Linked DNA regions of Homo sapiens. The protein of the gene in region 1 interacts with the protein of each later gene in a biochemical or structural test. Each region holds a gene or a part of one and is shown in the gene's direction. Other genes may lie near its edges. The genes, in order: BAG1, PPP1R15A, RAF1 and ESR1.

Region 1 (7,025 bases):
AGGCATTTTTATTTATATTTCATAGTGTAACATATTGTCTTTAATTTTTAAAAATATTTTATTTCTGAATTATAAAGACAATAGAAATTCATGTTTCAAAATAGAGGAATGCATGAAAAAGAAAATGTTCCCCTGGATAAAACCCCTCATAATAACACTGTGTCATCAGCATTCATTGTGGTATTGGGGTTTCCTGCAAAAAATGAGCTTTAATGGCTACTGTAGACCTTAATGCCTACTGAAGACTTTAAAGTCTTCTGTAGTGTGGTTCGTTGGTCCCTGATTCCTGAATATTTGGCTCTTTCCAGTTTCTCACTATTATGAAAAGGTTGCACTGAATATTATCGTATAGTAGTTACTGTGGAGTCGCATGTCCAATTATTTGTTTAGGATAAATATCTGGAAATGAAATTACTGGGTCATGACACCCTCTAAAAAGATACCAGTTCTCATTAGTGAACACACTTGTCTATTTCCTGTATCCTGCTGAAATTTATTTTCAGTGTTGTACAATTATTACAACTTGGCCTACCTTTCTCCTCTTTTTAGGAAAATCTCTGAAGGAAATGGAAACACCGTTGTCAGCACTTGGAATACAAGATGGTTGCCGGGTCATGTTAATTGGGAAAAAGGTAAATTGCTTTTTCCATCAGAAATCCTCAGAATCAAATGACTGAAGTCTTTTATACATGTTTCTGTTTAGAAGACCAAACTGGGGACCCAGATTCTGCATTGATAAAACACCTCTCTAAACAAATACAATCTTTATTGGTTTTACAGGATTACCAGTTTTGTTGTTCTCATACCCTCCTGCTCCTGTTGGTTAGAACTTTTGCTCTAGGAATTAGGAGCGGTTGTGCTGCCTTAATAATATGTTTTTTGTTTTGGTGGTGGAATCTTGGTCTGGTTAAAATGGTGCCTGGGACAGGTCTCATTCACTTGGAGTAGAATTTGCAAGAGTCTTTTGTTAAAATAAACTTGTAGATATTAAGAATAATCACTCTGTTCCAGTTCAGGAGCCTCTCTCCCTTTAACCAACCTTTTAACTAAAATCTCCCACAAGGGAAAACCTTCGACTGGAAAGGAAGGTTCAGACTAAAGAACTGAGGGGAAAAAAAGACAGATGAGGTCAGCAACCCTTAAGGTGATGAGAGAGGGCTGTGGCCAGCCCTGCATTGTGACACAGCAGAATTATGAGCATATGAAGTTCCCTTATTGTGAGTTAGGTGGCTGAGTAGAGAGAGGGCAGATAAACAAAGTGAAGGCAAAAAAAATCTAATCCAGACTTGGAACTGCCAGGAGACTGGAACTCAGGACTTGCCACAAAGAGAAGTGAATAATTTGGGATAGCATAACTAAGCAGAAAGCTGCTAGACCTATCTATCAATTGTTTACCTGAGAGAAGAGGGAAATATTCTAAATTTCTTGCTTCAGGGTCAGGGAGAATGGTGATGGGCAACAGGCAGAACCAAAGAGTCAAGTTTGAAGAAACTATAGGACTTTTACTTGGAGCTGACACAGAGCGTATGGAGCGAAGTGTGAACTCAAGGAAGGCACCATGGCACATGCCTATTGTCCCAGCAAGTTGGGAGTCTGAGACAGGAGGATCACTTGAGTCCAGGGGTTTGAGGCTGCAGTGAGTTATGATCATGCCTGTAAACAGCCACTGCACTCCAACCTGGGAACCGTAGTGAGACCCTATCTCAAAAAAGAAAAAAGTCTGAACTTAAGTCTAATCTACCTCTTTTGGACTGTGTGATCTCATGTTACTTTACTACATTAAGCCTCAGTTTCATCATCTGTAAAACAGCAGTACTTCCCTGATGGAGTTGTGGTAAGGCTTAAAAAATAGGTAAGGTGCTTAGGATAGTGTGTGGCATGTAGGAAGTGTTCAATAAAAGTATTCATCGTTGTTAACCAGCATCACATTAAACAGGAGCGCTCAATTGGAGGCTGCCATTTAGGAATTCCATTTAAAGGAATGGTAGAATTCCACCTTTCTTGCCATTCTGGACTCCTCACAAGTGTTTACTGAAATGTGATTACCCTCCAGGCTTCAGTCTTGGTTGTTGATCAGTATAGGGCTGAGACTGAATCTGGCACTTGGATTGTCTCCATTCTCTGCACCCAAGCTGTCAGGGCCCTCACCAGAATGTTTACCTAACACCTTCTCTCTAGTCTGGAGTCTTTGTAGATGGAAAACTTGATGTATAACCCTTTGACTTGATTTCCAAGAAGCAACAGAGTTAAAACTGTTATTTCTAGGTGAGTGGCTTCATGCAGGTGTGGTCAGGTATTTTTCCTGACAGAGGCTGCTGTTCTTGTTGATTGCTTTTTCTTTTTTCTTTTTTTTTTTTGAGACAGTCTCGCTCTGTCACCCTGGCTGGAGTACAGGTGCACGATCTCAGCTCACTACAAACCTCCACCTCCCAGGTTCAAGCTATACTCCTGCCTCAGCCTCCCGAGTAGCTAGGACTACAGGTGCACGCCAGCATGCCTGGCTAATTTTTTTGTTTTTTTAGTAGAGACAGTGTTTCACCATGTTGGCCAGGCTGGTCTTGAACTCCTGACCTCAAATGATCTGCCCATCTCGGCCTCCCAAAGTGCTGGGATTACAGGCATGAGCCACCATGCCCAGCCTGTTCTTTTTGACTATTGGCTTTATTTTCTTCTTAAACATTTTAGAACAGTCCACAGGAAGAGGTTGAACTAAAGAAGTTGAAACATTTGGAGAAGTCTGTGGAGAAGATAGCTGACCAGCTGGAAGAGTTGAATAAAGAGCTTACTGGAATCCAGCAGGTAACTCTCTTCATGGACCTTAACTTTCTGCCTTCTATCAGAGCTTCCTGGATATAACTTGTGGTTATGGGGACATGTTCTGCAGTCAGACTCCCTGGGTTCAGATCCTGGATTCACCCTTTCTCTTACTGTGAACAAGTTTATCTTTGTCTCAAGTTCCTCATCTGTAAAAATGGAATAATGGTGACATTTCCCTATTAGGATTGTTGGGAGAATTAAATAATGTAGATTGAGCTTGACACATACTAAGTGCTTTATAAGCATTTATTGTCATAGTTATTGTCAAACCCCAGCCAGCATCCATTTATGCTCACAGGAGAGCACCTGCCTTGCTAGGATCATGTATTGTCTGAAATAGAACAAGTAGCTTCTCTCTGGGCTGTTGTAATGTGTTTGGCAAGGCAAATAACATTTTGTTGGTTCATAGAAGGTCCAAGTTGAACATGATAGTGGGGTTGGGGGAGTCATCCTATTCAATTCCTTATATTAGAGATGGGGTACTAAAACCCAGTAAGGATTAGGACTAGCTCAAGACCACTTTTATTTATTTTTCCCTCTCATTTTATAGCATTAATTGGGGTGTGTTTGTGTTTTGGCTTTTTTTTTTTTTTTTTTTTTTTTGATATGGAGTCTCGCTCTGTCACCCAGGCTGGAGTGCAGTGGTGCAATCTCAGTGGCTCCCTGTAGCCTCTGCCTGCCAGGTTCAAGTGATTCTCCTGCCTCAGCCTCCCGAGTAGCTGGGATTACAGGTGCCGCCTGCCACCACATCTGTCTGATTTTTTTGTATTTTTAATAGAGATGGGGTTTCACCATGTTGGCCAGACTGGTCTCAAACTCCTGACCTCAAGTGATCTGCCCGCCTCGGCCTCCCAAAGTGCTGGGATTACAGGCATGAGCCACTGCGCCCGGCCTATATGTTTGTGTTTTAATTACAGAATACATGCTGACTGTACAAAAGTTTTAAGTACATGTATAGGCACTAATATGGAAAATAAAAATTACCCATGGGGCACCAACTCAGAGATGACGATTACCAAAGCCTGAAATATATTTTTCATCTTAAAAAAATTTGATATAATGTTATTTACACTTTATAAACTATTCTTTTATTGGATAAAAAATTAAACATTTTCCTGTGATGGTATTTTTCAAAGCTCGCATGCATTTCATCTTGTATAAATGTATTATTTACCTAGCCAACTCTGTATTGTTCATTTAATATTATTTTTACCATTATGTGTAATGCTTCTTTGACTGTCCTTGGACGTAAATCTTTTTTGACCATTCCTGGTTTTTTTGGTAGAATAAATTCTTTGAGTTGGAATTGCTGGGTGATGTTTAAAGCTCTTGCTACGTGTTGTGAAATCTGTGTCTGTAGCTCGTGGCTGTGATAAACATCCTCAGAGATCCCTGCTATCCAACTCTTGTCACCAGCTAACTGGTCATTAGGCCAAGCTGTGTGAGTGAACCATTAGACAATTTGATAAAAATAAGCACTGCTGCCATTCTTTAGCATGCGTCTGTGCCACAAGTTAGTGACACATGTACATATATTCCCTTTACCTCACAGTAACCATCTAGGGTGTGGGCATCATAATCTTCATTTTTAAAATGAGGGTACTGAGGCATGAATAGGCTAAATAATTTGCTCAAGATCACAAGTTAGTAAATGGCAGTCAGTTTTCAGGCGTAGGCTTTGAAGACTCTAAACCTGTGCTTTTAACATCTGCCTCTTCTTGTGACTGGGGGCTTCACTGGAGCCAAGCCTCAGGAGGCATTTGCAGCCACAGTGGGTCATGCGAGGTAGAGCAGACTGCAACCTGATAGAATTCTTGGACTGGCCCACGGCCAGCCTTTTTAATTTTTCCAAGAGTTAAAGTTGTGGATCTGAGATGTGGCCTGGCCTGCCAGGGCTATGGTGGGCTCAGTGTGATTGCATCATTAGTATTGTGGCATGGAGTCTTCCGTCAGCCTCAGAGAACCCTTGCAATAATGCATTATTTCCCCGCAGGGTTTTCTGCCCAAGGATTTGCAAGCTGAAGCTCTCTGCAAACTTGATAGGAGAGTAAAAGCCACAATAGAGCAGTTTATGAAGATCTTGGAGGAGATTGACACACTGGTAAGTAAATATTCAGCTGAGAAGAACTAGTTTTCTTTGACTTTATTTCAGTCACATTCACTCTTTCAGTAATTTACTCTCCTATTGCCTGAGCAAACCCATCACTTGAGAATATTAAGCATCTACTATTGTGTGCCAGTCATGTTGCTAGGTCCTGGGTGAATGCATGATGATAAGACAGTTCCTGCTTTCTAGGCACTCACAGCCCTCCAGCATAGGACTTTTATCATTTACACTTATGTTTGCCAGTAGCATCTGTAATCGTCATGAAGCTGGGACCCAAGGAGTCCACGATCTCATGGTCCAGGAAACAGAGGATTTAACTTTCTCTGATGAATATGTGACTGATAATTCTGCAGGGCTCATTACTTATAGATGATTCAGCCAGACCCAGGTCATGTGAGGCCATTGAAAATCATTAACTCTTTTGCAGATGATAGTAATGATATCTCTAGCCTGATGCTTCATTCTTGAAGGTGAACTGCACTGTGTACTTCTGTTGGCCAGGGTGGGTGTAAAGAAGCAGCAGCAGGCACTTTTCCTGTCACAATGAGCCCATGGTGTGGCCAGGGCAGAGTATCCATACATAGGAAACAATAAAAGAACAAAGTCTGTGTTAAAGATCAGTTCCTATGGCCCAGACATTGAGAACACAGGGAGCTTTTATAGGGACAAGAGCCATGGAAAGGCCATACAGGATACAGACCCAGGGAAAGGGTTCCTGAAAATGGATATCACATTTACATTGGTGACCTGTGACCTGTTTTGTGTACTGTGGGTGTTTCTTATGTGCTCTCATGTCATTTTCACTGAGGATTATTTGTTACATGTTTACTATTTACTAACTTGTATTATCAACTTACTCTTCCATAGATCCTGCCAGAAAATTTCAAAGACAGTAGATTGAAAAGGAAAGGCTTGGTAAAAAAGGTTCAGGTGAGTTGTGTAATAGTGCACGACAAGGTGTAATATGTTAATGTGTAGGTATGTGTGTTTATCTGTTCAAAATCAGGTAGTGTAGGAGCGTGGTGTGTGGTATGGGCTTGTTTTGGTTATATTTATCAGCAGGAACCCCAAACGTCAGAGAAGAGCCACCTGTGTCCCTGTAATTATATTTGAATTTAAACTATTTAGGGAGGGAACTCACTGGAGAGCAGGTAGGGCTGACACATTACACAATTCCAGGAGGCAGTATTCATGCACACAGTGCTTCCTGCGATTGTGCAGTTGCTGTGCAGTGGCCCTGAGGCAAAGCTCCCTGCCTTTACCACCTTTTAGGGGATTGCTGGCCTAGAGCATGGTCAGAATGCTGGTCCTATGCTCCCTCCCTCCCCTTACCTTGGAACCCAGGCCAGTGGCCCATCTCCATTCATGCACAATCTGTTTTGAGTCTCAGCCATGGGTTCCCCAGAATGGGTAAGCAAGGAGCCTTGTGTGGGCAGTGGTCGGCTACCCCTGGATGGGCCCTTACTGCCCCGTGTGTATTTTCTAGGCATTCCTAGCCGAGTGTGACACAGTGGAGCAGAACATCTGCCAGGAGACTGAGCGGCTGCAGTCTACAAACTTTGCCCTGGCCGAGTGAGGTGTAGCAGAAAAAGGCTGTGCTGCCCTGAAGAATGGCGCCACCAGCTCTGCCGTCTCTGGAGCGGAATTTACCTGATTTCTTCAGGGCTGCTGGGGGCAACTGGCCATTTGCCAATTTTCCTACTCTCACACTGGTTCTCAATGAAAAATAGTGTCTTTGTGATTTTGAGTAAAGCTCCTATCTGTTTTCTCCTTCTGTCTCTGTGGTTGTACTGTCCAGCAATCCACCTTTTCTGGAGAGGGCCACCTCTGCCCAAATTTTCCCAGCTGTTTGGACCTCTGGGTGCTTTCTTTGGGCTGGTGAGAGCTCTAATTTGCCTTGGGCCAGTTTCAGGTTTATAGGCCCCCTCAGTCTTCAGATACATGAGGGCTTCTTTGCTCTTGTGATCGTGTAGTCCCATAGCTGTAAAACCAGAATCACCAGGAGGTTGCACCTAGTCAGGAATATTGGGAATGGCCTAGAACAAGGTGTTTGGCACATAAGTAGACCACTTATCCCTCATTGTGACCTAATTCCAGAGCA
Region 2 (7,048 bases), on another chromosome or scaffold:
TTCTGTTTCTGTCCAAATCTTTTATTGTCAGACTCACAGGGTCTCTTCCTTAAGTCTCTGTCTCATTCTCTCTCTCTCTCTCTCTCTGTCTCTCAGTCATCCCCTGTGTCCTCTCTCCTTCACACTCAGTCTCTTCCTCTTTCTCTCTGGCTCTGCCGTTTCCTCCCTTTTCTCTTTCCGATTTCCCTTCTCACTTTCTCCCTTCCTCCCTCTCCCAGTTTCTCTTTCCTCTCTGCTGGTCTTTCCCTGCCTCTGCCAGCCGCCCACGCTGCTGTTCTCCCCTCCCAATCCCGGCTGTCCCCGCCCCTTCTGGCCTCCCCACTACAGCCTGACCTCTGGCTCAGCTGCCCCCATAGCTGAAGGGAGGGGCTTGGGCCCCCCAATTCCCAGGTCCCCTAAGGACCAAGGTTGGGACTTCTCAGTGTTTGGAGAGTTGGACTTGAGGCCTGCACTCCAGGGCCCCCGTGGGTTTGCTGCTGTGGTTGGGGGCCTGAGCCACTGGTGTCCTAAACGGAGGAGGCTTGTGTCCTGCAAGGGGTGGGGACTCAAATTTCCAAAGCCCTGGAGGGAATGGGTTAGGGATCCAGACTCCTGGGTGCCCGAGAAGGTCTGAGCTAGGATCAGGACTCCTGAGTCGTGAAAGAGCTGGGGGTCTGGAAACATGGCTGTGCTTGGAAGGGGCCAGGGACGGTTTGTCCAGGTCCCCTAGGGAGAAAAGGGGATGGTCCCAGTAGGGCAGGGTGAAATGGAGAGTTCCAAACCTCCACCTCAGATCCAGGTGAGAATTCTCTTCTAGACTGAGGACAACTCCCTCAGGAGAGAGACATGATTCCTTGGTATATTTTGAGGAACAAGATTATGCATCCGTAGGCAGGGGAGGAGAGCGGGGGGCTGGAACTGTCACCCAGGGCCTGGAACTTGTAGCAGAAGCGCCCCCACCCGCACAAAGAGTGCCACCCAGGCAGAATCGCGGCTTGTGGGGGCAGAGCTACTGCCTAAGTCTGAAGCAGATGACACCCAGGAGTGGAGCCTTGTGCCTGTGACCGGGAAGGAATCTGAGCTTTCGGTTTAACTGCCATTCACCATGCACCTGTTGAGCACCTACTGTGTGCAGGCACTGTCTGTTGCAGCCACTGAGAAGAAAGCAGTGAGCCCTGGCTGGGTGCAATGGCTCACGCCTGTAATCCCAGCACTTTGGGAGGCCAAGGCAGGAGGATCGCTTGAGACCAGGAGTTCAACACCAGCCTGGGCATCATAGCGAGACCTTGTCTCTATTTAGAAAATGAATTTCTTTTTTTTTTTTTTTTGAGGCGGTGTTTTGCTCTGTCGCCAGGCTGGAGTGCAGTGGCGTGATCTCGGCTCACTGCAACCTCCGCCTCCCGGGTTCAAGCGATTCTCCTGACTCAGCCTCCTGAGTAGCTGGAACTACAGGCACATGCCACTGCACCCGGCCTAAATTAATTATTATTATTATTTTTTTGAGACGGAGTCTCGCTCTGTCGCCCAGGCTGGAGTACAGTGGCACGATCTCAGCTCACTGCAAGCTCTGCCTCCCAGGTTCACGCCATTCTCCTGCCTCAGCCTCCCGAGTAGCTGGGACTACAGGTGCCCACCACCACGCCCGGCTAATTTATTTTGTATTTTTAGTGGAGGCGGGGTTTCACCGTGTTAGCCAGGATGGTCTTGATCTCCTGACCTCATGATCCACCTGCCTCAGCGTCCCAAAGTGCTAGGATTACAGGCGTGAGCCACCGCGCTCAGCCTAATTACTTTTTTTTGAAAAGCATTGAGCCCAGCAAAGTGCCTGATCTCATAGTGCTTACATCCTCATTCTCATTTGCAAGGAATCTGGACCCTGCTGTGACTATCTTGGTCAAGTGGCTTCATTTCCAAGCCTGTTTCCCCATCTGTGAAATGGGAACAATGACACCCTCGCACTCGGGGAGGAAACCAACCACATGTGAAAATAGGAGACTCTAGCCAGGCGTGGTGGCAAGCTCCTGTACTCCCAACTACTCAGGAGGCTGAGGCAGGAGAATTGCTTGAACCCGGGAGGCGGAGGTTGCAGTGAGCCAAGATCATGCCATTGCACTCCAGCCTGGGTGACAGAGTGAGACACCGTCTCAAAAAAAAAAAAAAAAAAAGAAAGAAAAAGAAAAAAGAAAGAAAAGAAAAAAAAAAGAAAATGGGAGACTCTAGGCTGGGGCCTGTGGGCTAAATTGGGGTAGGAGGCCAGGCACAGTGGATCACAACTGTAATTCCAGCACTTTGGGAAGCCAAGGCGGGCAGATCACCTGAGGTCAGGAGTTCAAGACCAGCCTGGTCGGCCGGGTGCGGTGGCTCACACCTGTAATCCCAGCACTTTGGGAGGCCGAGGCGGGTGGATCACAAGGTCAGGAGATCGAGACCATCCTGGTTAACACGGTGAAAAACCCCGTCTCTACTAAGAATACAAAAAAAATTAGCCGGGCGTGGTGGTGGGCACCTGTAGTCCCAGCTACTAGGGAGGCTGAGGCAGGAGAATGGCGAGAACCAGGGAGGAGGAGCTTGCAGTGAGCCAAGATCGTGCCACTGCACTCCAGCCTGGGCGACAGAGCAAGACTCCGTCTCAAAAAAAAAAAAAAAAAAAAAGACCTGCCTGGTCAACATGGCGAAACACTGTCTCTACTAAAAATACAAAAATTACCCAGGCATTGTGGCACATGCCTGTAATCCCAGCTACTCCAGAGGCTCAGGCAGGAGAATCGCTGGAACCCAGGAGGTGGAGGTTGCAGTGAACCGAGATGGCGCCACTGAACTCCAGCCTGGGCGACAGAGTGAGACGCCTACTCAAAAAATAAATAGGCTGGGTGCAGTAGCTCACGCCTATAATCCTAACACTTTGGGAAGCCGAGGCAGGCAGACTGCCTGAGCTCAGGAGTTCGAGAACAGCCTGGGCAACATGGCGAAACACTGTCTCTACTAAAAATACAAAAAATTAGCTGAGTGTGGTAGTGCGTGCCTGTAATCCCAGCTACTCGGAGGCTGAAGAGGGAGAATCGCTTGAACCCGGAAGATGGAGGTTGCAGTGAGCCGAGATCACGCCATTGCACTCCAGCCTCGGTGACAGAGCGAGACTCCATCTCAAAAAAAAATAAAAAAATAAAAAATAACAAATAAATAAATAGGCCTGGAGTGGTGGCTCACGCCTGCAATCCCAGCACTTTGGGAGGCCAAGGCAGGCAGAACACCTGAGGTCAGGAGTTCGAGACCAGCCTAGCAAACATGGTGAAATCCCGTCTCAGAAAAATAAATAATGAATAAATAAATAAATAAATAGGCCGGGCGCGGTGACTCACGCCTGTAATCCCAGCACTTTGGGAGGCCAAGGCGGGAGGATCCCCTGACGTCGGGAGTTCCAGACCAGCCTGACCAACATGGAGAAACTACGTCTCTACTAAACAAATACAAAATTAGCCGGGCGTGGCGGCACATGCCTGCAATCCCAGCACTTTGGGAGGCCAAGGCGGGAGGATCCCCTGACGTCGGGAGTTCCAGACCAGCCTGACCAACATGGAGAAACTACGTCTCTACTAAACAAATACAAAATTAGCCGGGCGTGGCGGCACATGCCTGCAATCCCAGATACTCGGGATGCTGAGGCAGGAGAATCGCTTGAACCCCGAAGGCGGAGGTTGCGGTGAGCCGAGATCGCCCCTTTGCATTCCAGCCTGAGCAACAAGAGCAAAACTCCGCCTCAAAATAACTAACTAAATAAATAAATAAATTGGGGTGGGAAGGCATTGACCCTGAGCTGAGAGAGAACTGGCTCGCTGTTGAAGCAGGGCCACGCATTTGATTGACAGTTCGTTTGTTGGAGGGGCGTGGTCACGCTCGGAAACTCCGCCGTGACGTTGCAAAAGCTGGAATCTCCGCGAGAAGTCCTGTCTTACTTCCACTTCCCACCCTTCGGGTTGCGGTCTCGAAACCCCGCCTCTCTTCGTGACGTCAGCACGCCGGGCGCGGTAGGCTATAAAAGCCTAGTGGCCATTGTGTTCGTTGCTCTTATCGGTTCCCATCCCAGTTGTTGATCTTATGCAAGACGCTGCACGACCCCGCGCCCGCTTGTCGCCACGGCACTTGAGGCAGCCGGAGATACTCTGAGTTACTCGGAGCCCGACGCCTGAGGGTGAGATGAACGCGCTGGCCTCCCTAACCGTCCGGACCTGTGATCGCTTCTGGCAGACCGAACCGGCGCTCCTGCCCCCGGGGTGACGCGCAGCTCCCAGCCGGTGAGTAAGGGGTCGGAACGCCTGGGTCCCCACGGGGCTGGGGGCCCGGATTTAGAAAGGAGAAGGGGTTGGGAGCCTGGAGTCCTGAGCCTGAGGGAGGAGGGATCTGGAAGCCAGATTCTTGGGTCCCCCGTGAAGGAATCATCTGCCAAGTAGGGGGTCGGGTCAGAATGTTTCAGTCTGCGAGGGAGGAGGGTGTGAGGGTTTGATTTGTCAATCTTCAGCAGAATGAGAGAGCTAGGGACTATGACTTTGTCGCCAAGGGAAGCAAGTAAAGACTTTTGTTCTTGGTTCTTGGGACTGGGAGTTCTGCGTCTGAAGAAAGAGAGGGCTGGGGGCTTGGACCCTTGGATCTAAGGCAGAACTAGGGGCTCAGACTCCTGGCTATTGAGAGATAAGAACAGAGCCAAGGGACAGAGATGGGCGTGGCCGAGATCAGAAAGGAATTTGGGACTCTCGCGTTGCTATTTACAATAGTTGTGTTACTATTTCCGTTGCTATGACTCATAGTCACGCCCGGATGCCATCCTCTAAATGGCCCCTAAACTTTATTTTTTTCTCCCCCTTTTCCAGCCCAGACACATGGCCCCAGGCCAAGCACCCCATCAGGCTACCCCGTGGAGGGATGCCCACCCTTTCTTCCTCCTGTCCCCAGTGATGGGCCTCCTCAGCCGCGCCTGGAGCCGCCTGAGGGGCCTGGGACCTCTAGAGCCCTGGCTGGTGGAAGCAGTAAAAGGAGCAGCTCTGGTAGAAGCTGGCCTGGAGGGAGAAGCTAGGACTCCTCTGGCAATCCCCCATACCCCTTGGGGCAGACGCCCTGAAGAGGAGGCTGAAGACAGTGGAGGCCCTGGAGAGGACAGAGAAACACTGGGGCTGAAAACCAGCAGTTCCCTTCCTGAAGCCTGGGGACTTTTGGATGATGATGATGGCATGTATGGTGAGCGAGAGGCAACCAGTGTCCCTAGAGGGCAGGGAAGTCAATTTGCAGATGGCCAGCGTGCTCCCCTGTCTCCCAGCCTTCTGATAAGGACACTGCAAGGTTCTGATAAGAACCCAGGGGAGGAGAAAGCCGAGGAAGAGGGAGTTGCTGAAGAGGAGGGAGTTAACAAGTTCTCTTATCCACCATCACACCGGGAGTGTTGTCCAGCCGTGGAGGAGGAGGACGATGAAGAAGCTGTAAAGAAAGAAGCTCACAGAACCTCTACTTCTGCCTTGTCTCCAGGATCCAAGCCCAGCACTTGGGTGTCTTGCCCAGGGGAGGAAGAGAATCAAGCCACGGAGGATAAAAGAACAGAAAGAAGTAAAGGAGCCAGGAAGACCTCCGTGTCCCCCCGATCTTCAGGCTCCGACCCCAGGTCCTGGGAGTATCGTTCAGGAGAGGCGTCCGAGGAGAAGGAGGAAAAGGCACACAAAGAAACTGGGAAAGGAGAAGCTGCCCCAGGGCCGCAATCCTCAGCCCCAGCCCAGAGGCCCCAGCTCAAGTCCTGGTGGTGCCAACCCAGTGATGAAGAGGAGGGTGAGGTCAAGGCTTTGGGGGCAGCTGAGAAGGATGGAGAAGCTGAGTGTCCTCCCTGCATCCCCCCACCAAGTGCCTTCCTGAAGGCCTGGGTGTATTGGCCAGGAGAGGACACAGAGGAAGAGGAAGATGAGGAAGAAGATGAGGACAGTGACTCTGGATCAGATGAGGAAGAGGGAGAAGCTGAGGCTTCCTCTTCCACTCCTGCTACAGGTGTCTTCTTGAAGTCCTGGGTCTATCAGCCAGGAGAGGACACAGAGGAGGAGGAAGATGAGGACAGTGATACAGGATCAGCCGAGGATGAAAGAGAAGCTGAGACTTCTGCTTCCACACCCCCTGCAAGTGCTTTCTTGAAGGCCTGGGTGTATCGGCCAGGAGAGGACACGGAGGAGGAGGAAGATGAGGATGTGGATAGTGAGGATAAGGAAGATGATTCAGAAGCAGCCTTGGGAGAAGCTGAGTCAGACCCACATCCCTCCCACCCGGACCAGAGGGCCCACTTCAGGGGCTGGGGATATCGACCTGGAAAAGAGACAGAGGAAGAGGAAGCTGCTGAGGACTGGGGAGAAGCTGAGCCCTGCCCCTTCCGAGTGGCCATCTATGTACCTGGAGAGAAGCCACCGCCTCCCTGGGCTCCTCCTAGGCTGCCCCTCCGACTGCAAAGGCGGCTCAAGCGCCCAGAAACCCCTACTCATGATCCGGACCCTGAGACTCCCCTAAAGGCCAGAAAGGTAGGTGCTGAGAGCCCAGATTCTATTTTTTTTTTTTTTTTAATTGAGTTGGAGTCTTGGGCTGTCACCCAGGCTGGAGTGCAGCGGCATGATCTTGGCTCACTGCCAACCTCTGCCGCCCAAGTTCAGGCGATTCTCGTGCCTCAGCCTCCAGAGTATCTGGGATTACAGGCGCATGACACCACACCCAGCTAATTTTTTTTGTATTTTTAGTAGAGACGGGGGTTTTGCCATGTTGGCCAGGCTGGTCTCAAACTCCTGACATCACGTGATCCACCCATCTCAGCCTCCCAAAGTGCTGGGATTACAGGCGTGAGCTACCACATCTGGCTGAGAGCCCAGATTCTTGAGTCTTAGAAAGAAAGGGGGCTGGGGGCCGAGACTTCTGGGTCCCTGTATGTTGCAGAGGGTTGCATGTCATCTCCATGGAGAAGGCTGTGTACGCTGTCACGCAATCCCTTGTAAGAGGCCAGGCCCCTGGGGGAGGAGGGAGCAGCTGTGGCTCACAGCAGCCCCAGGAAACCACCTCT
Region 3 (7,025 bases), on another chromosome or scaffold:
CAGCCGTGCCATGTGTTTGTTTTTGGGACTGGGGGTGGTGTTGGGACTGGGGGTGGTGTCGACAGCACAGAACCCACTGTCCACGGGAAAGCACAGTAGACCTCCCTGAGCACTTTCCTCCTCCCTCTCCTCTCTTCCCCTCCCCTCCCCAGCAAAACACGGCATGTGAACATTCTGCTTTTCATGGGGTACATGACAAAGGACAACCTGGCAATTGTGACCCAGTGGTGCGAGGGCAGCAGCCTCTACAAACACCTGCATGTCCAGGAGACCAAGTTTCAGATGTTCCAGCTAATTGACATTGCCCGGCAGACGGCTCAGGGAATGGAGTGAGTAGATGGTCTGATGCCTCTCTGGGACCCAGGCATCAAATTTGTCCCTAAATTGGAACCAGGATCAGGAAAAGCCTTCTAGTCCATTAAGCGATTCTGTGATATCTTTGCACAAGCCTCTGGCCTGGGCTGGAGGGGCCAATTATCAGGAATGAGTTGTTCAGGTTCCAGCTGGGTGGGGTGGCTCACACCTGTAATCCCAGCACTTTGGGAGGCCAAGGCCAGTGGATCACTTGAGGCCAGTAGTTTTGAGACCAGCCTTGCCAATATGGCAAAACCCTGTTTCTACTGAAAATACAAGAATGAACCAAGTCTGGTGGCACATGCCTATAATCCCAGCTACTCAAGAACTGGGACAGGGAGAATCGCTTGAACATTGGAAAGCAGAGGTTGCGGGGAGCTTAGATCACGTTACTGCACTCCAACCTTGGCTGCAGAAGCGAGACTCTGTCTCAAAAAAAAAAAAAGAGAAGTTCAGGTTCCTCCTTGGGACTGAACTTCCCCCTTGGGGCTCAGCTTTGGGCTCTGCCTGCTACCCTGGCTTTATCAGAAACCTGAGAATATAGTGGGGTGCATGTACCTTCTGCTTGGACAGCTGTGGCAATGCCTTCTGCTCAGCTGTCTGAGGCATGGCTGTCCCACATGAGGGTTTAAGCAGATGTTGTTTTTGGGATAATTTTTTTTTTTTAATTAAAAACTTTTTCCTGGCCAGGCACGGTGGCTCATGCCCATAATCCCAGCACTTTGGGAGGCTGAGGCGGGTGGATGACGAGGCCAGGAGTTCGAAACCAGCCTGGCCAATGTGGTGAAATCTCATCTCTACTAAAAATACAAAAATTAGCTGGTTGTGGTGGCAGGCGCTTGTAATCCCAGCTACTCGGGAGGCTGAGGCAGAAGAATCACTTCAACCCGGGAGGCGGAGGTTGCAGTGAGTGGAGATTGTGCCATTGCACTCTAGCCTGGGTGACAGAGCCAGACTCCATCTGAAAAAAAAAAAAAAACCCAAAAAAACCACACTTTTTTCCTTAGAGACACAGGTTCTCACTCTGTCACCTATGCTAGAGTGCAGCGGCGCAATCATAGCTCACTGCATCCTTGAACTCCTGGGCTCCAGCTATCCTCTTGGCTCAGTCTCATAGGTTGCTGGGACTGCAGGCACATGCTACCGTGCCCAGCTAATTTTCGTGTATTTTGTAGAGTCGGAGGTCTCACTATGTTGCCCAGGCTGGTCTCAAACTGGACTCAAGTGATCCTCCCACCTTTCCTGGCTAGCCTAGGGTAGTGCTTCTCAAACTTCTCCTCTGAAGTAGAGGAGCTCCTCGTACCCCTAGACATCTGGGAGTTACTAAGCTATAGCTGTGCTTGCAAGTCCTACATAAATTCTCACACTGTCTTTAAAATTCATATGGAAGTTGCCTTCTGTGTATTTTAAGAAATGGAATGACTTTTCAGAAAAATTGAGATATAATTCATACATCATAAAATTCCCCCTTTTAAAATGTACACCTACCTCAGTGTTTTTCTGGTATTGAGTTGTGCAGCCACCACCACTATCTAATTTTAGAACATTTTCATTATCCCGGAAAGAAACACATGCCCATTGTATTAGTCTGTTTGGGTTGCTCTAAAGGAAGACCTAAGGGTGGGTAATTTATAAAGAAAAGAGGTTTATTTGACTCGGGGTTCTGCAGACTGTACAAAAAGCATGACACCAGCATCTGTGTCTGGTGAGGCCCTCAGGAAGCTTTCACTCATGGCAGAAGGCAAGGGGAGCCACGTGTGATGTGGTGAGAGAAAGGAGCAAGAGAGAGAGCATGGAGGGAGGTCCCAGACTCTTTAATAACCAGGTTTCATGTGAGCTAATAGTGTGTGAACTCACTCGTTACTGCAGGGAGGCCACCGAGCCGTTTGTGAGGAATCCATCCCCATGACCCAAACACCTGCCACTTAGGTCCCACCTCCAACACTGGGGATCACATTTCAACTTGAGATTTGGAGTGGACAGATATCCAAACAATATACCCATTAGAGGTTACCCAATACCTCCCACCCACTTGCAGTCTACTTTCTGTTTCTATGGATTTTGCCTACTTTATAGTTCAATATAAATGGAATCATGTAAGATATAATATAGTCAGGTAACATATAATGATGTTTCGGTCAATGACCACATATAGGAAGGTGGTCCCACAAGATTATAATACTGTATTTTTACTGTGCCTTTTCTATGTTTGGCTATGTTTAGAGACACAAATACTCACCATGTTACAACCAGCTACAGTATTCAGTACACTGAGGGCCATACAGTTTTGTAGCCTAAGTGCAACACGTTATACCATTTAGCCAGGGTGTGTAGAAGGCTGTACCTTCTTGGTTTGTGTGAATACACTTTATGATGTGTGCATGATGACAAGTTGGCTAACAACACATTTCTCAGAAGGTATCCCTGCCGTTAAGTGATGCTTGGCTGTATATAATACATAAGATATGGTATTGTGTGCCTGGGCTCTTAGACCTAGCATAGTATTTTCAAGGTTAATGTGTAGCATGAGTCACTACTTCATTCCTTTCTGTGTCTGAGTAACATTCCATTGTATGGATATGCCACATTATTCATTCATCATTTATGGACATTGGGTTATCAGAATTACTTTAGAGTAAAACTGATGCTTGAAGAAGTGTCAGCAATGGTCAGGCGCCAGGGGCCCATGCCTGTAATCCAAGCATTTTGGAGGCCAACATGGGAGGATCACTTGAGCCCAGGAGTCAAGACCAGCTTGGGCAACAGTGCAAGACCCTGTATCTACCCAAAAAAAAAAAAAAAAAAAAAAAGGCGGCATGGTGGCACATGCCTGTGGTCCCGGCTACTGGGAGGTGGGAGGATCACTTGAGCCCAGGAGGTTAAGGCTGCAGTAAGCTATTGACTGCACTCCAGTCTCCAAAAAAAAAAAAAAAAAGGTGTAAGCATGTTTGTGCTGTGGCCTCACCTTCAGGTAAGCAGTGATGTGAACCAGGCTGAACAGCACAGGGTCTATCCCTGTGTGTAACACTCCTTGGAGCCAGGCCTTCAGTGGCTTTACTTCTTAGCTGTAGTTTAAAACTGCTTTCTACTCATGCCCCTCAAACTTATTTTTAATAATTTCTTTTCCCTTCACAGCTATTTGCATGCAAAGAACATCATCCATAGAGACATGAAATCCAACAGTATCCTTTGGTTGTTGAGTTCATTTGACTGCTCGGTTCTAAATTTAGGGAAACAGAAGGGAGGCTTTCTATCACAAGTGGCTCTCGGTGCCAGGGGATATCTTTTTAAGGAAAGAGGCAGAGGACAGGAAAACAGAAAAGTCAGAAAATTAGTAGGCTTGGCCTGTCCCTCAGCAGCTTATGCCTCACCTGGACTGATGAGAGCGATGTTTAGGTTAGGTTCCTTTCTGAGTTTATCTCAGCAAAAGTGATTTGGAGAGATTTCCGTAAGCTTGAAATAGGCATAATTTTATCACACTATTAGTAAATGTAACCTGACGGGGATTGGGCTTTTGTCTTAAGTTTATTTCTAGTTTGTGGCCAGCGTGTGTATGTCTATCTGCTTGTTATGTGGATAGCAAGTAGCTACAAGCCAAATGTTGAAAGGTTTCCAAAATCACTAATTAAAATAGTCTTTCTTGACTGGGCGTGATGGCTCACACCTATAATCCCAGCACTTTGGGAGGCTGAGGCAGGTGGATCACTTGAGGCTAGGAGTTTGAGACTTGCCTGGCCAATGTGGTGAAACCCCATCTCTAAATTTAAAAATTAGCTGAGTGTGGTGGCACGTACCTATAATCCCAGCTACTCAGGAGGCTGAGGCACGAGAATTGCTTGAACCTGGGAGGCAGAGGTTGCAGTGAGCTGAGATCACGCCACTGCACTCCAGCCTTGGGGACAGAGCAAGGCTGTGTCTCAAAAAAATAAATAAATAAAATGGTCTTTCTCAAAGGTACATAAGTGGGTTCTTCAGAAGTCACTATTAGAAGAGGAGAGGGGTTGTTTTTATAGAAGAGTAAATGAAGAAAGGTATTTTTAATGCTGTGAGGCGTGAAATTTAACAATTTTGAATCTGCCACCCTCCACGAGCCTTTCCTTGTGAAAGAAAGATGGCATTACAACCCACGTTTTGCCTCTTGAGCAGTGAGAGGCATGATAGTTGTGTTGGATTATGGGACATGGCCTATTTTAGGTACATGTCTGAGGTGTGGAACACCTTTCAGTGGTGGGGTTTTTAGCAGCCAAACATTATACCATGAAAGCAGACACCACAGATTTAAGGAGGTGTGAATTCCTGGGCACCAACATCACAAGTTACTTTGTGTGTGTTTTGTTTTTTAATTTTTTGTTCTTTTTTAATTTTTTTTTCCTCACAAGTTTGACTTAAACTGTATGACTTCTTTACCCAGAAGCGAGCCGACTTCAGTTCTCATTTTGAAGTCACTGAGTGGTACCGATTCTAGTGAGGAATTTCTTACTACAACATTGAACACTCAGTAAGGGATTTGCTATTTTGTTAACCACTCAAGTTTCAGATGGTGATTTGAGGGCAGAATACAGGCAGAAACGACTGTAAGCTGTCAGGCCATCCTTGGCCCTCTGGGGAGCACTGGAGTGTGGCCTCTGCTCATCCTGTTAGGGTTTCAAGTACCTGTATTATGTGGAAAGGTCACAAGGCCAGAGACCCAGCACCTAGATGTGCAAATGGGGAGAAGAAGCAGGGAAGAAACGCTGGCTTGCTTTTGGCTAGGGCCAAATAATCTGGCACATTGACCAATCCCTGCCTGTCTTCTGGAAGAAGGTGCATTTCAAAAGCACTTTAAAGAACTTCAGAAACCTTAGGAAGTTCAGTGCAGAGAGGCTGTGACAGAGGTAAGGTGGAGAGATTACCGTGTTATAAAGAACTTTGGGATATTTTTCAAAATTAACCTGACCATTCTTTTGAAACCAGAGTCCTTAACAAGCATTGAGATATATTTCTCCATGAAGGCTTAACAGTGAAAATTGGAGATTTTGGTTTGGCAACAGTAAAGTCACGCTGGAGTGGTTCTCAGCAGGTTGAACAACCTACTGGCTCTGTCCTCTGGATGGTGAGAATCTGGGCTCCCACCAGCAGTCTCTGGTATAGGGCAAAAGGAATGCCTTGGAGATTTATGTGCAAACTTAAAGCGTTTCTGTACATTTCCCCGAAATCCACATGACCCCTAGTGACAGCCAGCCTCAGGGCAATTGTAGATTTTCTTGAGGAAGCTGTTGATCAGAACCACTGTGAAGCTTAGTGTGGAGAGGAGTTAATAAGCTGGGTGACAGAAATGCTGGGTCTTGGTCCTTTAAAGACAAGGATTCCTGAGCTGTTTTAACCAGTGCCTGAGTTGGAGTCCTTTGGGGGAAAAGCTATGTGGGGACTGAAGAATGGACTCATTCATAACTAATGAAAGGGACAGCCTGGCCCCTAGATGTCTGTGAGGCCTGTCATATGGTGATAAATGCACTTTTGTCATATGGTGATACATGTAGGCCCCAGAGGTGATCCGAATGCAGGATAACAACCCATTCAGTTTCCAGTCGGATGTCTACTCCTATGGCATCGTATTGTATGAACTGATGACGGGGGAGCTTCCTTATTCTCACATCAACAACCGAGATCAGGTAAGTCTGTGCTGGTGCGAAAGGACCCAACTCGTGGGAGCCCCTGGGCCTCCGCCAGCCTAAGCAGCTAGAGGGTTAGGACTTGTTATTATCTGTTGTTCATTCACCCCCCATTAGCTCAGCTGTTTTCTTTCCCTTAGATCATCTTCATGGTGGGCCGAGGATATGCCTCCCCAGATCTTAGTAAGCTATATAAGAACTGCCCCAAAGCAATGAAGAGGCTGGTAGCTGACTGTGTGAAGAAAGTAAAGGAAGAGAGGCCTCTTTTTCCCCAGGTAAGGCTCAGGGCTGCTAGAATGTGATTAAAGCATGGGTTGGTTCGTAAAGATGGCAATATAAGGTGGGAGTGTTTTGTTTTGTTTTATAGGGAGGGGACCCAGGTCCTCTACAAGATGGTGGGGGGCAGGGTACATCCTGTGTCTTTGAGACACAGCTAATGAGAGCATTCTTGGGCTTTGTTTCAGATCCTGTCTTCCATTGAGCTGCTCCAACACTCTCTACCGAAGATCAACCGGAGCGCTTCCGAGCCATCCTTGCATCGGGCAGCCCACACTGAGGATATCAATGCTTGCACGCTGACCACGTCCCCGAGGCTGCCTGTCTTCTAGTTGACTTTGCACCTGTCTTCAGGCTGCCAGGGGAGGAGGAGAAGCCAGCAGGCACCACTTTTCTGCTCCCTTTCTCCAGAGGCAGAACACATGTTTTCAGAGAAGCTGCTGCTAAGGACCTTCTAGACTGCTCACAGGGCCTTAACTTCATGTTGCCTTCTTTTCTATCCCTTTGGGCCCTGGGAGAAGGAAGCCATTTGCAGTGCTGGTGTGTCCTGCTCCCTCCCCACATTCCCCATGCTCAAGGCCCAGCCTTCTGTAGATGCGCAAGTGGATGTTGATGGTAGTACAAAAAGCAGGGGCCCAGCCCCAGCTGTTGGCTACATGAGTATTTAGAGGAAGTAAGGTAGCAGGCAGTCCAGCCCTGATGTGGAGACACATGGGATTTTGGAAATCAGCTTCTGGAGGAATG
Region 4 (7,025 bases), on another chromosome or scaffold:
AATATAATAGAAAATATCAGAGTGCATGGTATTTCGTAAGGATAAGTTTTGTTTCCTGAAAATCTGTTTTAATTATATGTGCTTCTGTGTGCTGATTGTGATGTAAAATGTATTTCTTACTGTGGATTGAATTCAAAGAAAAAATTAGAAAGCTAATGGCCTAAAATATTATATGTTCAGTAGAAAACAAAAAATTCAGGCAAGTGGCTGGTTGTTTTTACCTATACAAATCAAAAGGCTATTTTGATTGTCTTCATTTTCCCCTTATAAATTAGGTTGGTGTCTTTAGTCATTTAGGCTAAGTTTTACTATCTGATTCTTAACTTTTCTATTGTAGAATGGTGCTGTCATGTGGACTGTCCTCCCGAGTGTCCCACTGGATGTTCAGAGAATTTATGTGAAGGTCACGTCATTTAGCATTGAGATGCTGTGGTTACCTTCTTCCATTTCTTCCATAATATGCAGCCACATCTATGTGTGAAGAAATGTAATAGATAAAATTTCTCTGGACGCATAATAATGTGAGAAAGATTGTCACATGTCCCAGCAAATTGTTATTAATATAAATTTGTTACTTGGCAAGCTGAGATTTTGCAAGATGTTACTCAAAATTTCACAATGAAGGAAACAGGGAGTCATCTTATCCTGGGTTCCTTTTTTAGATTTCAAACAACTTAGGAACTTTGAATAAAACTAAAGATGAAGCTTAACTATATCAACTATCCTTTTTAAAGTTCTAATTAGGAATTTAATGCTGCATGCTTATTTCAGTTTTATTACTCAGTATTCTTAAAAGTTAGACGTCTCTCACTTCTCCAAAAAACTTGGCAAATGTATAAATCTTTTGCATCAAAATCAATGCCCTGCTAATTTGTATCCTGGCCATCTGCATATTTTGGACAACTAATTTTTCCACTGGTGATCATTTGAAACTCTTTCTCAACTTTGAATAGAGACTGATTTCCAAAGTGAGATTTAAGTGACTAAGTTTCAAGTTTCCGATACATTTTTCCTTTTACTTAGATAACATTTCAGCCCCCTTCCTTTCTGATCTTACTTTTTTATTAATTTAAATTGTTACTGATTACGTGACACTTTGTGCTGGTCTAAGAATAGTCCAGAGTCACATATTCCCTGGTGAATGAGCATATTTTCGGATGAAAACGGAATCACATCTTCAATCCCCATTTCATTTTCACCTCCTCCATGTGGCTTGTACCTGTTTGGAAGAAAGCTCCTGAAGGATAATTGCCACTTATTCTAATCTTTCTCACACTCATTTAATTTGGATCCCTGGCTAAAGTTGTTATTTACTTTTGTGATTATACTTAGTCTATGACATTCATAATTTGGGAAAATTCTCAGGTTTGAGAATTTTGGCGGCTTGGGATTTCTTTTAGTTTCTTATAGTTTTAAGGATATGTAAGACAGGTGTAAGAAACTGCCAAGGGGAGGAACCATAGATATCAGGAAAAACTAGAAAAGATGCCAGACTTACCATTAATGAATGATGAGACAATAGTAACTTTGTTAAGTGAGATTGTATATGTGAAAGTGGTATAGAAACTAAACAAACATTAGGTGTTTTTATTATTTTACTCACATGTTAATATTTGTTTTGGTGCTTTCATAGGCTAAAAAGCTGGGAAATAACAGATTTAAGTGGTCAGGAATTTTGTTATAAATATAGAATGATGATTATATGAAATCTTTTCCTGTGAAAGTCAAATTTAAGTAAAATCTTTATCACCATCTGCAACATTTGTCTGCAGCCTGGCTTACCAGGTTATCATAAAGAACATTTATTTTACAGATACATTAAAGAAAGTCAAAACCCTGATTATGTGTAAACAATTTTACATAAGGAAATATATGAATTTTAATTATATTTTTCTAAAATCCGTACTCAGCATGAAATTAATACATCTTAACCCCTCCCTGTGACTTCATTATTATTTTTAATGTAACTTTAGAAGAACCCAGTAGAGAGAGCAGCGTGCTAAGTGTGTTTCTTTCTTTTCCAGACAACTTTGAATGGAGAGGAGCAAATTAGTCTTTTGGTTTAATTCTGTCTCAGTTTGCTTATCTAAAGAAAGGAAAACAGAGTGGCTACACTTGTTTAGAACCATATGCATACTCCAGAGAAAGATGCTCTATTAATCCAAAAAATACAGCCACTTGAAACCAGCCAAAGCGAAAGTGTAAGGGACTTCATGGAAAGGAGGCAGTTCACCAAAGTTATTGAGGGGTTTTATATTTTAAACTCCGCCAGTGAATTGACGTGTAATGTCACTTACAAAAAAAAAAAAAGTATGTCTGAGCTGTTCGCTACTTCGTCTCTAAAATATACTCATACTGATCTCTGAAATCCCAGAATTTAAGTGGGCTGGAGGTTACGGGAAGCACCTTTATAATATCCTTAATCTCATGAGGGAAGAAACCATAATTGCTGAATTCTCTGCCTTGGATAATATCAGGAGGGACTCTGAAGAAAGTTTTGCAGTAATCAACAATGTTTTAAATTATGTGTATATTTTTAGATCACCTCAAAAAATATAGGAAGCACAGAATGACAACTATTCTGGTCTCAACTGACACAATTTTATGTAGTTTAATAAAGTAATAATTTCAAGAAACGTGGGCAAATAAGAAAGAGTATGACTTTCTTACAACCCGCTTGTAAGTGATGTGGTGGTGGTAATGATCCATGATTTTGATGATGACGATGATGATGAAAATGAAGTTTTTGTCTCAGTTTGGGTAGGTGGTATTTCTGGATGCCTCCTATGGACCCTGGAGATGTTCATCCTATACAGAAATCCAATCCTTTAAATCTACTTGGCTCATTGTTTTAGAATTCTAATTCCATAGTCTGAAAATTTTAATAATGATATTACCAATAATATTAGAAACTTATTAAGTACCTATAATTGCTATACAAAAAATTTAAAAGAACCCAAAATTCCAAGCAAGACTGAAAATTTTTTGTCTCTCCTCTGAACTATTTAGAGGGACAAATTAGTTTGTTCTTATAATATCTACTTTAAATAAATGTGCCATCTTTAATAAGATAGTAGACTTCTTTGTTTGGTAATGTTCTATTTTTTGGAGATCCTATGAGTTACACTTGGGAAAATTATAAAAGTTCACTTAAAGTTAATAAAATCCATTAAGTAATGTTCAGAACTAGACATTTCCAAATGAGCCCTTGAAAAGCTCAGGTGGGTTCTTTTTGAGAGTTCCCCAAATGTTGTCAACCCCAGGAGGAATGGAAGACCTCTGCAGTTTTGTTATTCAGATTCTCATCTCCTTCTCAGAAGCCGTAGAACTGGCCGGGCCCTAAGGTCCACGCTCCTTGGTTCCAGTTCTGTCTTCCATCCTTCGGTCCCGGGCTCATTCTGCCTGTTCCTAAACGGTGGCAAGTTAGGGGCCCCAGCAGCCAACTTGTGCTTACCTGGCACTACTTCCTGGGCAGTTTTCTTGGCTCCTTGACTTGTTGGGCGGCTTGGGATTTCTTTTATGGCCCTGAAAGCAAAAGACAATGTTCTCTTTTAGTTTCCTGCAATTAAATGATGTTAGAAATAGTCATCTTCACATTGGCGTACTTCCTCTTTCTTCTGTAGGTCTTTTAGAATTTTGAGTCCATTCTCATATTTTCTTGTTTCATTTGCTTTATTTTCTAATACATAGAAGTTTAAACTCCCTTTAAAGAGTTTTTGGCCTCTTTTACCCTATTAAGCTTTCTTTTTTCTTTTCTGTTTTAGTTGTTCCATCTGTGTATTCTCAGATATTTTTCTTTCACCTTTTCTGGTTTATTTCTTTATTGACCTGTCTCATCTGTTATTTTAATGAAATTTGGAACAGGGCTAAACAGAGTTCCTACCTCAGCCAGTATAAGAATATACCGTAATAACTCAGAGTGGTATTAACTAGATTAAAAGTTTCAAAAAGTGATGTTTTTCTTGTCTCTGAGGATAGAAACTTCAACAAAATAAAGAAGAAATTTTCAATTAGTAGAATTTCTTTGAAAGTTTGTTCATTCATTCATTTGGCTACCTTATTCCAAATTGAGTCATTCATTGAGGGCTTAGACTATATAAAGTGTGGTTTTGTTTTCCCAGCAGTTCATGCAACAGCATTGCACCTAGCAGCTGGGAAGTCTTATAGCATGAATAGGTGAGATTCTAATACCAGAATCTCCTGCATGTGTAAACTAACAGTGTAGTCTTGACTGTTGTCTCCCAGTAAACTTGGTTTCAGGAGTTTTAGATCCATGTGAACGTGTACAAGGCATTTTTGCTAACTGTAACTTCCCACTTAATCAACAAAAACAAAAACACTCATTTCTGAACATTCAGTGCATTCATGATTAATCTTAATTACACCACAAAGGTATTTTTCAATGGTGATTTTGCGGGAGTGGGGTAACAGTTTCGAAAGCAACATTGTCAGAAACATAGTTGATTTTAAAGGTTCTTTCTGGTGACTTTGACTTCTGCTTTTTTAGAAGACCTTACACAGAGTTGTATTTATTTCTCCTGGAATATTTCAAGCAATTCAGAGTGAAAGGGTATACATTCCAATTTGCGTATGAGATAAAATTTAGTTACATTGAGAAGCTATTTTCTTTAGTTACAGGGAAAAAATTGTAGGGCTTTTGGAAGCCTCTTTGATTTCTAATAGGAGGAATCCCTGAGCACTGGTCCAAACAGAAATCATCTCTTCTTCATTGCTGTATTTCCCTCAAGCTCTTAGCAAAGTGCATGGCACGTGAAAGCCCGGAGAAGCTGTTGGTTGAAAGAATGGATGGTGGTGGGCAGGAAGCATCAGGGACATGGTTTGCTTCAGTCTATTGGCTGGGAGAAAGGCCATTTAGGAAGGGATCCTTAGATGCCACTGGAAGAATGTGGGAAGTTTGTGAATCTCTCTTTCTCAGGAACAAAAGTAGAAAAAGGACTCCACACAGCATTCCAAGTACAGTCGGCCCTCATTATTCATGGATTCTGTATTTGCAAATTCGCTGACTTACTGACGTTTATTTGTAACCTTCGAGTCAACACTCACGGTGCTTTCTCAGTCCTTTGCAGACGTGTGGAATGGCAAAAAAATTTGAGTTATATGACGTATATGTTCCCAGCTGAGGCTGAGCAAGGCTCACTTCTCCTTGCAGCCCTCAGACTATAAACAAGTGTCCCTCTTGCTATCTACTTCGTGTTATGATTTTTGCATTTTCATAATCCCTGTTGATGATTTTGCTGTTTAAAATGGCCCCTAAGCATGGTCCTGAAGTACTGTCTAGGGATTCTAAGACAAGGCTCTGACGTGTCTTAAGAGAAAATACGTGTTTGATAAGCTTTATTCAGGCATGAGTTACAATGCTGTTGGCCATGAGTTCAATGATGGTGAATCAACAGGATATATTAAATACAGTGTTTTTGAACAGAAAAACATATAAAACAAGGTTATGTATTAATGAGTTGGCAAAAATGCTGTGACCAAAGGCTCCCAGGAACCTACCCTATTTTCCCCTCAATGCAATGGTTCAGTATTTGCTAATTCAGTGTTTGAGGTGACTTTATAGAACATGAGTACCATGAATAATGAGAATCGATTCTGTATAATAGAGTGATGAAAGCACAGGTCTGGGAGCCAGCAGCTATATTTCTATTCTGGCGTGACTCCTGTGTAGTTGTCATCACTGGCAAATTGCTTAACTGTGTGCCTCAGTTTCCTAATCTGTAAAAGCTACATCGTTTGGATGATGTGAGGATTAAACAAATTCATAGATGTCTAGGGCTTATAACATTCCTGGCACATAACAAGTCATTATTTTTTATTACTACTTCGGAAGGGAATTGAGTACTATACCCTGAAGAAGGTGAGTATGGGAATTCTCTACGGGTCTGGAATGTCCCTATATTTGTTTATTTTGCCTTCAAGTGACTAACTTTAATACCCTATTGTGATTAGAAGTTAAACTTCTGCAACCAAAAGGAAGCAGGAAGCTAGTATTTCTTGAAGTGCTTATTACATGCCAGGTACTGTGCTACAAAAACAAAACAAAACAACTGTAAAAAAAACTTCAAATTTGGCTGCGTGCAGCTGCTCATGCCTGTCATCCCAGCACTTTGAGGAACTGAAGGGAGGATTGCTTGAGTCCAGGAGTTCCAGACCAGCCTGGGCAACACAGTGAGACCCTGTCTCTACAAAAAAACAAAAACAAAAACAAAGGCACTCCAAATCAGTAAAAATTAATCAATCAATAAAAAGAGTGAGGGGCATTAAGTATTGTGGACTGAAGCAATCCCAGAGAGGGAATTAATTGAAGCTGAGGTAAGCAGCTTATGGAGAAGCTATGATGTACAGAGGGCAAGGAAGGAATTTTTCTGTAATTTGGAAAAATGGGAACTGTGAGAAAGAAGGAGTTGGAAGCTCATACTTAGGGAGCATCTACAAGGACGTCTTTTTCACGTTGGTTGGAATATCCAAATCAAGGATTATTTCAGAATCACCCAGATGATTAAAAAACTACTGAGATCCAGGTTGTATTTCAGCAGTTCTGACAATTGCTCTGGGTCGAAGCTTGAATCAGTAGTTAAGAAAAACAACAAACAAAACAAATTTTGGGGCTTTTCTCACTGATTTACAGTTAAAGCTCATTTACTCTTCCTATGACTTTAGATGGAGGATATTTCCAAGTCTTCAGGATGGAGACATGGAGGGAAGTGAGACTAGTGATGTGCCTCAAGGTTTTGCTGTTGTTCTAACCATGAGGAGCACTATTCAAACCCAGGTCTGCTAGATTTCCAAGTCTTCATTTCCTTGGGCCTCTTGGATTTCAGAAGCAGAGGGTAAAAGGAGTGCTGGGGAGAAAGATCACAGTAGCTTTCAATTCTACTCCTCAGCTTTCCAAAATAAGTTTCAAGACTGGCCGTTGCATTTGATATGGAATAAATACAAAGAAGGTAGATTGAAGGGTATGAAGATGCAGATTTTTGATACCAGATATGAAGATAACATTAGGA

Evidence for each region.
Region 2: the proteins of BAG1 (region 1) and PPP1R15A form a complex in vitro, tested with the Homo sapiens proteins (one study listed by BioGRID).
Region 3: the proteins of BAG1 (region 1) and RAF1 form a complex in vitro, tested with the Homo sapiens proteins (2 studies listed by BioGRID).
Region 4: the proteins of BAG1 (region 1) and ESR1 form a complex in vitro, tested with the Homo sapiens proteins (one study listed by BioGRID).

Annotation. Positions count from the first base shown.
Region 1 is NC_000009.12:33,254,694-33,261,718, reverse strand, and holds part of BAG1 (BAG family molecular chaperone regulator 1), read left to right. Parts: intron 1-549; coding exon 550-632; intron 633-2,685; coding exon 2,686-2,799; intron 2,800-4,810; coding exon 4,811-4,918; intron 4,919-5,791; coding exon 5,792-5,854; intron 5,855-6,410; coding exon 6,411-6,500; 3' UTR 6,501-7,025. UniProt on the Homo sapiens protein: Co-chaperone for HSP70 and HSC70 chaperone proteins. Acts as a nucleotide-exchange factor (NEF) promoting the release of ADP from the HSP70 and HSC70 proteins thereby triggering client/substrate protein release.
Region 2 is NC_000019.10:48,868,381-48,875,428, forward strand, and holds the start of PPP1R15A (protein phosphatase 1 regulatory subunit 15A), read left to right. Parts: upstream 1-4,040; 5' UTR 4,041-4,271; intron 4,272-4,844; 5' UTR 4,845-4,853; coding exon 4,854-6,518; intron 6,519-7,048. UniProt on the Homo sapiens protein: Recruits the serine/threonine-protein phosphatase PPP1CA to prevents excessive phosphorylation of the translation initiation factor eIF-2A/EIF2S1, thereby reversing the shut-off of protein synthesis initiated by stress-inducible kinases and facilitating recovery of cells from stress.
Region 3 is NC_000003.12:12,584,102-12,591,126, reverse strand, and holds part of RAF1 (RAF proto-oncogene serine/threonine-protein kinase), read left to right. Parts: intron 1-152; coding exon 153-329; intron 330-3,489; coding exon 3,490-3,536; intron 3,537-5,327; coding exon 5,328-5,446; intron 5,447-5,873; coding exon 5,874-6,005; intron 6,006-6,145; coding exon 6,146-6,280; intron 6,281-6,469; coding exon 6,470-6,613; 3' UTR 6,614-7,025. UniProt on the Homo sapiens protein: Serine/threonine-protein kinase that acts as a regulatory link between the membrane-associated Ras GTPases and the MAPK/ERK cascade, and this critical regulatory link functions as a switch determining cell fate decisions including proliferation, differentiation, apoptosis, survival and oncogenic transformation.
Region 4 is NC_000006.12:151,810,672-151,817,696, forward strand, and holds part of ESR1 (estrogen receptor), read left to right. Parts: intron 1-7,025.